2 linked regions of the Homo sapiens genome follow. The protein of the gene in region 1 purifies or fractionates together with the protein of each later gene. This does not show direct contact. Each region holds a gene or a part of one and is shown on either strand. Other genes may lie near its edges.

Region 1 (5,360 bases):
TCTTCCCTATCTCCAACCCAAATCCCAAAGACCAGAGTGATGGCCTCTCCACACTCTGGCTGGGGAGGGTGCCAGTCCCCACTGAGATCTGCCTGGCACATAGTTATACTTTATGAAAGGAAATTTACACTTTTTTAAACAACCAAAATACATTTCCTAATATGGAACTCCACCAAAGTTTAAGGAGTCAAGAATCACATCAGTATGGATGCGTACTTCTGTCCAATGGATACATTTTCCTTTCTTCTTCTCCCCAAATTAAAATTAGAGAATTGATGTTCTCAGACTAGGTTCATAATCTTTAAAATGCACAGTTATAAAAGGAAAAGGACAAGAACACTGAAGATGCTGATAGCTGAGCCTTCCAAGTCACCCAAAGAATGATAGTGAAAAAGCAGGACCATTGTGAAGAGGAACAGAGTCAAGCCACAAGAAGGGGGATGCTTTTCATGGTGGGGCACACGTGAGCTAGGCTGTGACAGGCAGGAGTCTGTGTCCCCTGCTTCACCTGGGGTAACCCAGCAAGGCCATACCCACCAGCCATGCGAAGACCCCTAAGCCAACCCTTCTCCTGCTCTCCCTCTGGCTCCCCACAGCTCTCCCATCATCCCATGCTGCTCTCCGGCTGCTTCCTGACTTTCTCACATGTCTCTTCCAAGGCACTGTGCACACAGAAGATGCTCAATAAACACAATTTGTCCCTTCCCATCCCTTTTCTAAGTTAGCTTTGCTTTCTCTATGTGTTCACTGCACTCTTACCTGACTGTGCTCTCATTTTAGCATTTCCTAAAGACATACAAAGGGCTAAAAACACACCTCTCCTGAAATTCCATATCTATCCCAAATGTAGGATGACTCCTCACATTCTCCTCTCCTTCTACCATATGGTTTTTATTCTAAGCTCCCAGGAAAGTTATTTGCAGGCTTGGTGAGTACAAAGGGCATGTACGTGTCTTGCACTACAGCACACTGTGATCTAGACTCCAGCCATGCCCGGTCCCTACGACATCCATTTGACACAATTCCTACCTATTTCCAGCACTCCCCGTCATAACTAGTGAGCCAATATGAGGCAGAGAAAAGTACACTGATGGGAATTTATGTTTCAGCTCCCACTCTGACTCTTATACATTCAATGTCATAGTTGCAGAATATTTGGTGACACTCTGGGTCCAATGAGACTCAGAGATGGGATGGGATATACTCACTTCATCTGCAAAAGGGGAAGGATGATACACATCCCATGGGGGCTACAGGCTGGGGTTCTCATCCTACACTCCCAACCATCCCAGCGCGCAGCCCTCCCTGTACTCACCGCACTGCTGCAGGGGATGTCCTTCACCTTGAGCCAGGCCAGGTCCAGCGTGCCCTCGCCCCGGTAACAAGACTGCAGCCGCTCCTTAATGCGGTCATTTATCTGCTTCAAGATGAAGATGCACAGGGCCGACTCATCCAGGGATTTCATTTTCCGCTTCTGGCCCTTGGAGAAGACGGTGAAGAGCAGGTCATCATCTGGATGGACTCCAAGGGTCCTGCCAAGCACGGCCCCCGCTTTGGACAGGTAGGCAGCCTGCAGCAGGCGGTACTCCACCCCACTGCGCTCACAGCCAATGGGCACCTCTACATAGGAGTTGAAGGCTGTGTCCTCCTTGCAAAGCCTCACGAGCTTGGATGTATACACCTGCTCCTTGGTGGTGGAGCCTGGTGGAGACACCATCTCAGGTTGGAGGGTCAAAAAGTAGACAAAGTTGCCACTGCTAAAACCATAGACATAGTAGATATCAAAGTCAGGGATGATGGTGAAGGTGTCCGAAGGGATCTTAATCATCGAGGCCACGAACTCATCATGGAAGACGTACGCGAACATGCCATCCGCCTCAGAGTTCTTGGTCAGTTTCCGGCTGGAGATGGTGGGAAAATACTCGGGCTTCCCATCCACTGCCGTGGCAATGAACAGCTTGTCATCCAGGTTGCTGTAGGAGACGATCACTCCAAAGACTGAGCCGCTCTCGTTGACACCTGACAGATAGTGCTCCTTCTTATGATAAGGCTCCCCCAGCTTGAAGAGGTCCTCCAGCCTCAGCAGCTTGCAGATGCCTTGGTACAGGCTCCCACAGGCAATCAGCCTGTTCTCCTTGTAGTCTATGAGGAGCATCTTGTTGACATTGTTGGTGGTGGTCAGGGGCTCATTGCAGGTCTGGACGATGCGGGGTGGGTAACACTTGGGGTTGTCCTCGTCCGGCCCTGTCTCATGCGTCACCAAGACCTTCAGGTCGCTGGAGAGCTTGTAAATCCGATTGACGGCCCCCAAGTAAATGTGTCCTGTCCTCTCATCCACCACCAGGTGATTGAAACCCTCGGCGGGCTCTCCTCGGAATGTGACAAATGACCGCTGCTTCTGGGACAGCGGGGCTGGCTGCCGGGTGAGCAAAGTGGAGGAGCCCATGCCCACCATGAGGAGGTGGGAGAGAAGGCAGGTCCAGTTCCAGGGCATGGCTTTCATGGCAGAGGCGGGTCCCAGTGGCACAGCAGCACTCAGGCACAGTCGTCCCCTCAGAGGGCCAGGACTCAGCAATGCAGTCTCCCCTACTGGAGAAAGGGAAGACAATGAGCTGGATAACAATGCCAGTGGCTTCATTTCACCCCACAGCTTGTCTGCCTGGACTTTCAAAATGTTCTGCACACACTGAGCAGAACTGCACTGGGGGGTGCTGGAGGCTGACTGAGTCAACCCCCACCACGGGCATGTGACACAGTCAGAGCCGGGTGGCAGCAGCCCCAGGAGGACACATCAGTAACGATAATGGTGGTGATGATAATGACATGATAATAGCAGTGATGATGATGATGATCATGATTAACAGCCATTATCTACTGAGTGCCTGAATTTGTGTCAGACACTGTCCAGCACTGTCACCCGGGTCAGGTGCCACCAGCAGGCAGCATCCGCAAAGACTGGCTGGAGGAGAAGAGGGAGGGAGGGAGGGAGGGAGGGAGGAAGGGCAGGAGGCGGGGCTGCCTGCACTGGCTGCAAGCTTTGTCCGGTGTTCCCCACAGCAGGCCTCTGCACACAGTTTCTCCGTCTCCAGGCTCTGTGAACCACCTCCTGCTGGACCCCATCTGGCCGTAGAGGTGGTAACAGAGACCTCACTATTACTATCCACCCATACTACATTGCCCCTTAAAGAGCCACACTTTTATGAATAGCCCCTTTATTAACCTTTTCTCAAAGGACCAAATTTGTATGTGCTGTCTATTACCTGCTGGGACCCTGATTGGTAGACCTCCGAAGTACATCCTATTGTAGCCACATTTTATAGCTAAGGAAAGCAAGCTTAGGGAAGTCATGTAACTTGCATAGCTATAAGTGGTAGAGGTAGCTCCAAATATGAGTAGTGTAAATGTGCACAGGTTCGCAATCTTAACTGCTAAACCATCTCAGTTCACCCCAACCTTGCACAGTTGGGGCTGTACCGTGGTCCCTGTCCCATGCAGCAGAAGAATTAAGGTTGATCCCTTCTCGGGGCTGTCCATTACAGCCACTACCTCCAGTTCTCTGTGTCTGTACCTACTACTGCAGGAGAAACTTTCCTCTGTGCCTCCTCTGCTGGATGAAGAGGCCAAATTAAAAACCCACATCCTCAATCTCGTCACACTGCAGCTGCAACCAGGTCCTCTGGGTTCACTGCCCAACCCTGAGCCCTAATGTTATTTTAACAAGGCAGATCTTGGCTTCCTCCCCTAGCAGGGCCTCCTCTGAGAGGTTTTCATTAAAGGGAGAGAAAAAATGCTTTAAGAAGCAGTCAAGCAAATAAATAAACAAATAAATACAAAACTCCCCGAGGAACAAGATCACTCCCCATCCTGAGGGTCTCTTTCTATTCAAGGTGCTTCCTGCATGTGTTCCCATTGGACAGCTTTATGTTTCTTCCAGTTCGAGAGAATTCAGGGCAGGAATTGCCAACATCCTATCTGGGGGCATCTCAGCTCTGTGGAATTTTTCTCATTCACCCCCAAACACCTCAAAAGTAGAGAATGAGAAGAGGTAGATCACTAAGCAATGGAAAATTCCCCAGCAGGGAGCAAACGCTAGGTCAGATGGAAACCAAGAGAAGAAGGAAGAAAACCAAATAAAGACTTTGCATTGTCAGCCAGCATCCTAATGAAAAGCACAGGCCTTCTCCAGTCAATATCAGAGGAGGAAGACTGGTTAGTGGAACACACCACAACCAAGAGCAGTGCTGAAAGCCAAGGGCCTTCATTCATTCACCCATGTGGCAAATGTTTGCTCAGAACACACACAAAATGTGCAAGACACTGTGGGGCCCAAGGAGCAGATCCTCAACGAATGCGTAGTCAAATCAGGCCGATACCACCAGAACCTGAACTGATACGCACGACAAAAAGTCACATGGCATACAAGAGAGTGCTTTGAAAGTTCCTAGGAGGAGGAAGACTTCTAACTTAGGGTGAGAGAGGGCAAGGAGCAGGCTGCAGGAGGCCTTGGGGAGGGCATGGAATTTGGGCTGAGCTGTGAACTTCAAGAAGACAGTCAGAGCACGAAGGGAAAGACCTTCTAGGGGAGGGGTCTACATAGCAGAAGCATGGGCATATCACATGAGGGTGTGTACAAGGAAGAGTACGTCTGGAGAACATAGTTCATGAATGAATCAGGTGGAAGATGAGGCTGAAAAGAGAGAGCTTCAGCCTTGCCAGGATGTCACTGGGAAGTTGAGACTGAAATGCACAGTGTTGAAGACAGAAATGAAATTGTAGAGGAAAAGAGCAAAGGCCCCCAGAGAGGAGCCTCTCCCTTTCCATTTAGCCTTAGCCTTTGCAGAAGGAGAGTTTGGAGCTGAGGGTCTGTGAACTCCACAGGGCAGGGCTGGGTCTGTCTTGCTCGTCAACACATTCACAGCTGCACATATAGAGGAGGCTCAACAACTGTTTCTTGACTGGCAGAAAGAGGGGCTGGAAGCATAGACGAATACCAATATCTGTGGAGTATTTACTGCACCCCAGAGCCCATGCAAATACTTTCACATAGCTTGGCTCACATAATCCTCACCACTGTTCCCTGGGATCAGAATTGTCTTATTCCTATTTCAGGTGAGGAAACTTTAGCTCTGCAAGGACACTGGTTAAGATGTAGCAGAACTGGGTTTGAAGTCCAGGTTTCAATCAATGCAAAATCCATACTTTTCTAGAAATGCACATTTCCAGAGCCCAGAAGATAGAGCACTTAGAAGCCCTTGTTAACTCATGTAAGCCCCAAACAGAAATCCTGGGATATCACCTACCAGTATCATGAGAAAAACAAAGTCCTCTCTGACCTTCAGGGGCTAAGCTGGTAGATAACA
Region 2 (4,092 bases), on another chromosome or scaffold:
AAGTAGGTACCAGCTGATTTTCCAGATATTGAAAGTTTGCTGCACAACATCAGCCTAGAGATAAAGGGACATGTAATGTCCAGTAGGAAACAAATCAGTGTATATCATTTACACGACAATAAATCCTTCATTTCCCTTGAAATAAGATATGTAAAGTAGCACTTAGTTTAATACAAGTTTTGTTCTGCTGTAGACCTAGCTGTAAAAAGCCATTCATGCAAAAAATTACTTCCAGTTTTAGCTGGATGTTTAAAGGACACTTCTCCTGAAAACAAGTCCCTTTCACTTAGGGAAGGGAAAAAAAAAATCCCACTTAGCCAGTGCCGGCTGAGAGTGGAAAATACAAGACTTTGGTGTTTGTAGGGCATTTGCCTTAAGAACCCAGAAGTAGCACTGAGCTCACCTCTAAAGAGGCAGAGGGCTAGACGCGCCCTTGAAAATTTTAGGAATTTTTTCAGAAAAAGTACTGAGAATCTTTATAAAATTGTATTCGCTGGCCAGTTCCCTCCTGGGGCTTCTATTGGCATCATCTCTCCTTCTAGAGATGCCTGCTCTGCATCTCTAGTCTCAGGCCACATTTCCCCCAGCCAGCAGATCGTTCCTCCATTAGCAGTCACTTTGCAGCTCCTTCCCCTCTGTTCTAAGGGAAAATAACTTGTATTATTAAGCTTTCCTATCCCCATAGGTCCTTTCTGTACATATTATTTCTAAACTTTTTAAATATGGGAAGGTTCCTGGATTAAAATATAAGACAAAACTCCTCTATTCTAAAGAACTCTAACAGAGGTGTTGGATGCTGCTCACCTCCAGTCTTCATACAAATAATCTAGAGAATCTTGTGCCATGGCCTTTTTTGCAGGGCAAGTGTGAGCACTGGAATGAGATTCACTCAAGAGGACAAGGAATGGAAGGAATGGATGGCTACATCTTAGACCCACTCCCAAGTTAGAAATCATCGTTCCACTGAACTTGCTCCTCTGAGATCTGGCTCTGTCCTACTTTTTCCACCTCATTTATTCCTAAAAGAAACCCCTTATTTTCTTACACCACTAAATGTTATGGATGTTATGATAAGCAACATGGAAAGGGAATGGAAAGAAAGGGATAAGATATAGGGGAAATTCAGAGCCTTGGATGGTACAGAGGCATTCAAAATGGAGGTTTTCTAACATCTGTCAGATAGAAGGCAATATTTATGATGAAACCTGCAGTGACTGACTTGCCTTCCCAACACAGGATTCATCCTGACATGAGTGGAGAAGATGCTGACAATTAGTTAAGAGTAGACAATGATGACTCTAAGATGATATCTGTGTGTCATTGTGCTATATAAAAACTGGCCAATCACAAAGCAATGTGACAACATGTGCTTCTGCTACCCTTGTTTTCTCAGTACACCCTTCAGTCTGGCCTGAAGAATGCCACAAGGAGTCATTTGCATTCTTATTGTGATTGTTTAAGGCAAAAACAGCTGTTAAAGAGCACTCAGGGTTGAAGGGTGGATGCTGAGAATCAGAGAAGTGCCCCCAATGAGTCTCCAAAATGAATAACAGCAGCATCACTGGGACCTTTTCTGTCCCCAAACTTCATAGCTTCTGCTCAACTGCTGTGAAACATTGCCTCCAGATGCACACTGAGTCAAACATAGACTTGTACATTGTGAGAAATGTGCAGAAATGTTAAAAGGAAAATGATTGTGTATAAGCAGTCCTTCATTTAGGGGTTTACAAGTCAGTGGTATGTTATAAAGACTTGTGTAGGGGGAGCCTACTCTAAAGCATGCCCTTCAAATGAAGTCTAGTGTGTTTCTTTCTACTTCTCTGAGCCAGGAGAGCTGGGAGTGTTACTCCAAACCCATTTGTTAGGAGGTCAAGAATGTGACAGAGACAGCTAAGCTAGGCTTGGTAATAAATGAAAGATGTAAGAACCTTAAGAATAAAGTCTTCCAAGTTGAGGCTCCGGTAGATAGGAAATAAAGGAAAACAAAACAACTGCCCTTCCTAGTCTGGGAGGTCAATCAGGATAGCGGGCCCCTTCAATTCAGGGGGTTGTTTGCTGTCCCTGGTGCTGAAAACATACACCCAGGCTTCGCTGCAGAATTTACACTCTGGGATGCGAGAAGCAAGAAATCCCGCTTATCAAACTAAATACTCTTTCAGCAAAGGCTGATTTCAGGTGACAGGCCTCAAAACATGTTCCAAAAGTCTTTTTTTTTTTTTGTATGTGTGTCATTTCAAACAAAAATAGCCCTGAAGCAACCCTAGTTTTCCTGTGGAACAGTTAATGCGTGCCAAAGTACTGATGTGGTAGCTCTCCCAAAATTCCCTCATGTTATTCATGAACCTTAAAACCTTGGAAAAGAAAGATTGTAAACAGATGCACCATTGGGGTCTACAGTCCCCACCTACTGATTTCTTTTTCTGATACCAGTTGCAGACAATAATTTATATGGCTTGCTATGACTAAATGTTTCTGAAGGAAATATTTGGGTAAAACTTTGCCATGAACTGCAACATGGGCCTCTGAATTCCTCTCCTTTCCTAATTTTATTGTCACATTCTGAGAAAATAAACAGGGCATCTATTATGCTAAAGAGAAAGTATAAACTCATAAACAACTACATTCTATCTGCCTTTAACCCCCCACCAGGCAAAATACACACACACACACACACATACACACACACACACACACACACACACAGAATCTCAAAAAGTAAAGTCTACCTGAGAAATAACATGAATCTTCCCCCAACAGTACACAAATCTTTGCCAGAGAGAAGAACACTGCTATTTTCTTTCACATTCAGAGTGAGAATTTTCTTGCCCCAACTTGCTTTCCTTTCATTTTAATTTGACAGTTCCTCAAGCTAATCCACCATGGCCCCCACATAAACAAGAAGAGTTCTTGATGCTGTGAAGTGAGAGAAAAATAACATGAGTCATTTTCTGTTGCCTCCACATCTGATAGAATTGGAGGAGCCTTTACTTTGGGATATGAATACAATCAATCTTTTCTAGCCTGGAAAAGGAAGTATCCTAAGAAAGGCTAAACTCTCAGAGAAGGGGCAGATGGTGAGAAAGCATTGAAATAAGTTCTTGTTGTGCCTGTTAACATATCAGGTCAAACTTTCTCTACCTGGTGAGTTATTCCCCAAATGATATCTCTGAAATCCTTAAATAATCAGCCTTGTCTTTAGGAAGTTATATAGTGAAATGAGCTTGTTCAAGGAAGGCTTTAACAGTACTGTGAAGGAGGTCATCCCCTCCAGATTATCAGAATAAATTATGAAACTTCACCCTGAACCAGTGACTAAGCCAAATAGATAAAGCATCCCCCTGTCTCCTTGTATTTTTTAGAGCATTCTCCATGGCTAGATACTCAAAGTGAAAAATGCTAATGGCAAAACTTCTAAAAAACAGACACCAGCAAAAATTTAAGGAAGATATGCCTCAAAACACGTCTCAAAAGCGGCTCTCAGTCTCTCAGCTCAGCACCCAGCAAGACTGCATGCAACTGCCCAGAGAGTGGGCTCTATTATTTGTCTGGCCCTGTACAGTTCACCTTCTCCAATTTCACATCATAATTTAAAATCTCAGTGGTAACCCAATTTGGACTCTCATTTCGAAAGCTGGGATGCTTTTTGTCTACTGAACAGTAGTCCGAAACAGAGGTGTTGCTTTTCTACACAAGAAAAACAAAAATTGAGCCCAATCTTTTGTCATCAAGATTGCCTCTGTATGAGGCAAAAGTTAAAGAGAAAAGAGAAGCTGAGAGAGCCTGAACTTGAGCAAAATATTTGTGAATTTTCTAGGATTTGGGGTATGCAGCTTTATTCTGATTTCTTTCTGGAGTGATCAAAATACTTTTAGAAAATCATGTATAGCATTTTGTCAGATACACTGCAAGTGATTGTTGCTTGGAGATCTATGAAAAATAACATTTGAGAAAATTTTACTTGCCAAGTAGTCACTAATACAGAGTACTTATAATAGTGGCTTGTCATCACAAACACCTGGGATTTTTTAGGGGCTGTAAATGACAGAATACTGTGACTTTGGCATTCTGGCCTCAGGATTCATTATCAAGGGT

Evidence for each region.
Region 2: the proteins of PLXNA4 (region 1) and NTRK3 purify together in Homo sapiens (affinity purification with western blotting, with the first as the bait; one study listed by BioGRID). This does not show direct contact.

Annotation. Positions count from the first base shown.
Region 1 is NC_000007.14:132,506,191-132,511,550, forward strand, and holds part of PLXNA4 (plexin-A4 isoform 1 precursor), read right to left. Parts: intron 2,590-5,360; 5' UTR 2,504-2,589; coding exon 1,316-2,503; intron 1-1,315. UniProt on the Homo sapiens protein: Coreceptor for SEMA3A. Necessary for signaling by class 3 semaphorins and subsequent remodeling of the cytoskeleton. Plays a role in axon guidance in the developing nervous system. Class 3 semaphorins bind to a complex composed of a neuropilin and a plexin.
Region 2 is NC_000015.10:87,861,319-87,865,410, forward strand, and holds part of NTRK3 (NT-3 growth factor receptor isoform a precursor), read right to left. Parts: 3' UTR 1-4,092. UniProt on the Homo sapiens protein: Receptor tyrosine kinase involved in nervous system and probably heart development.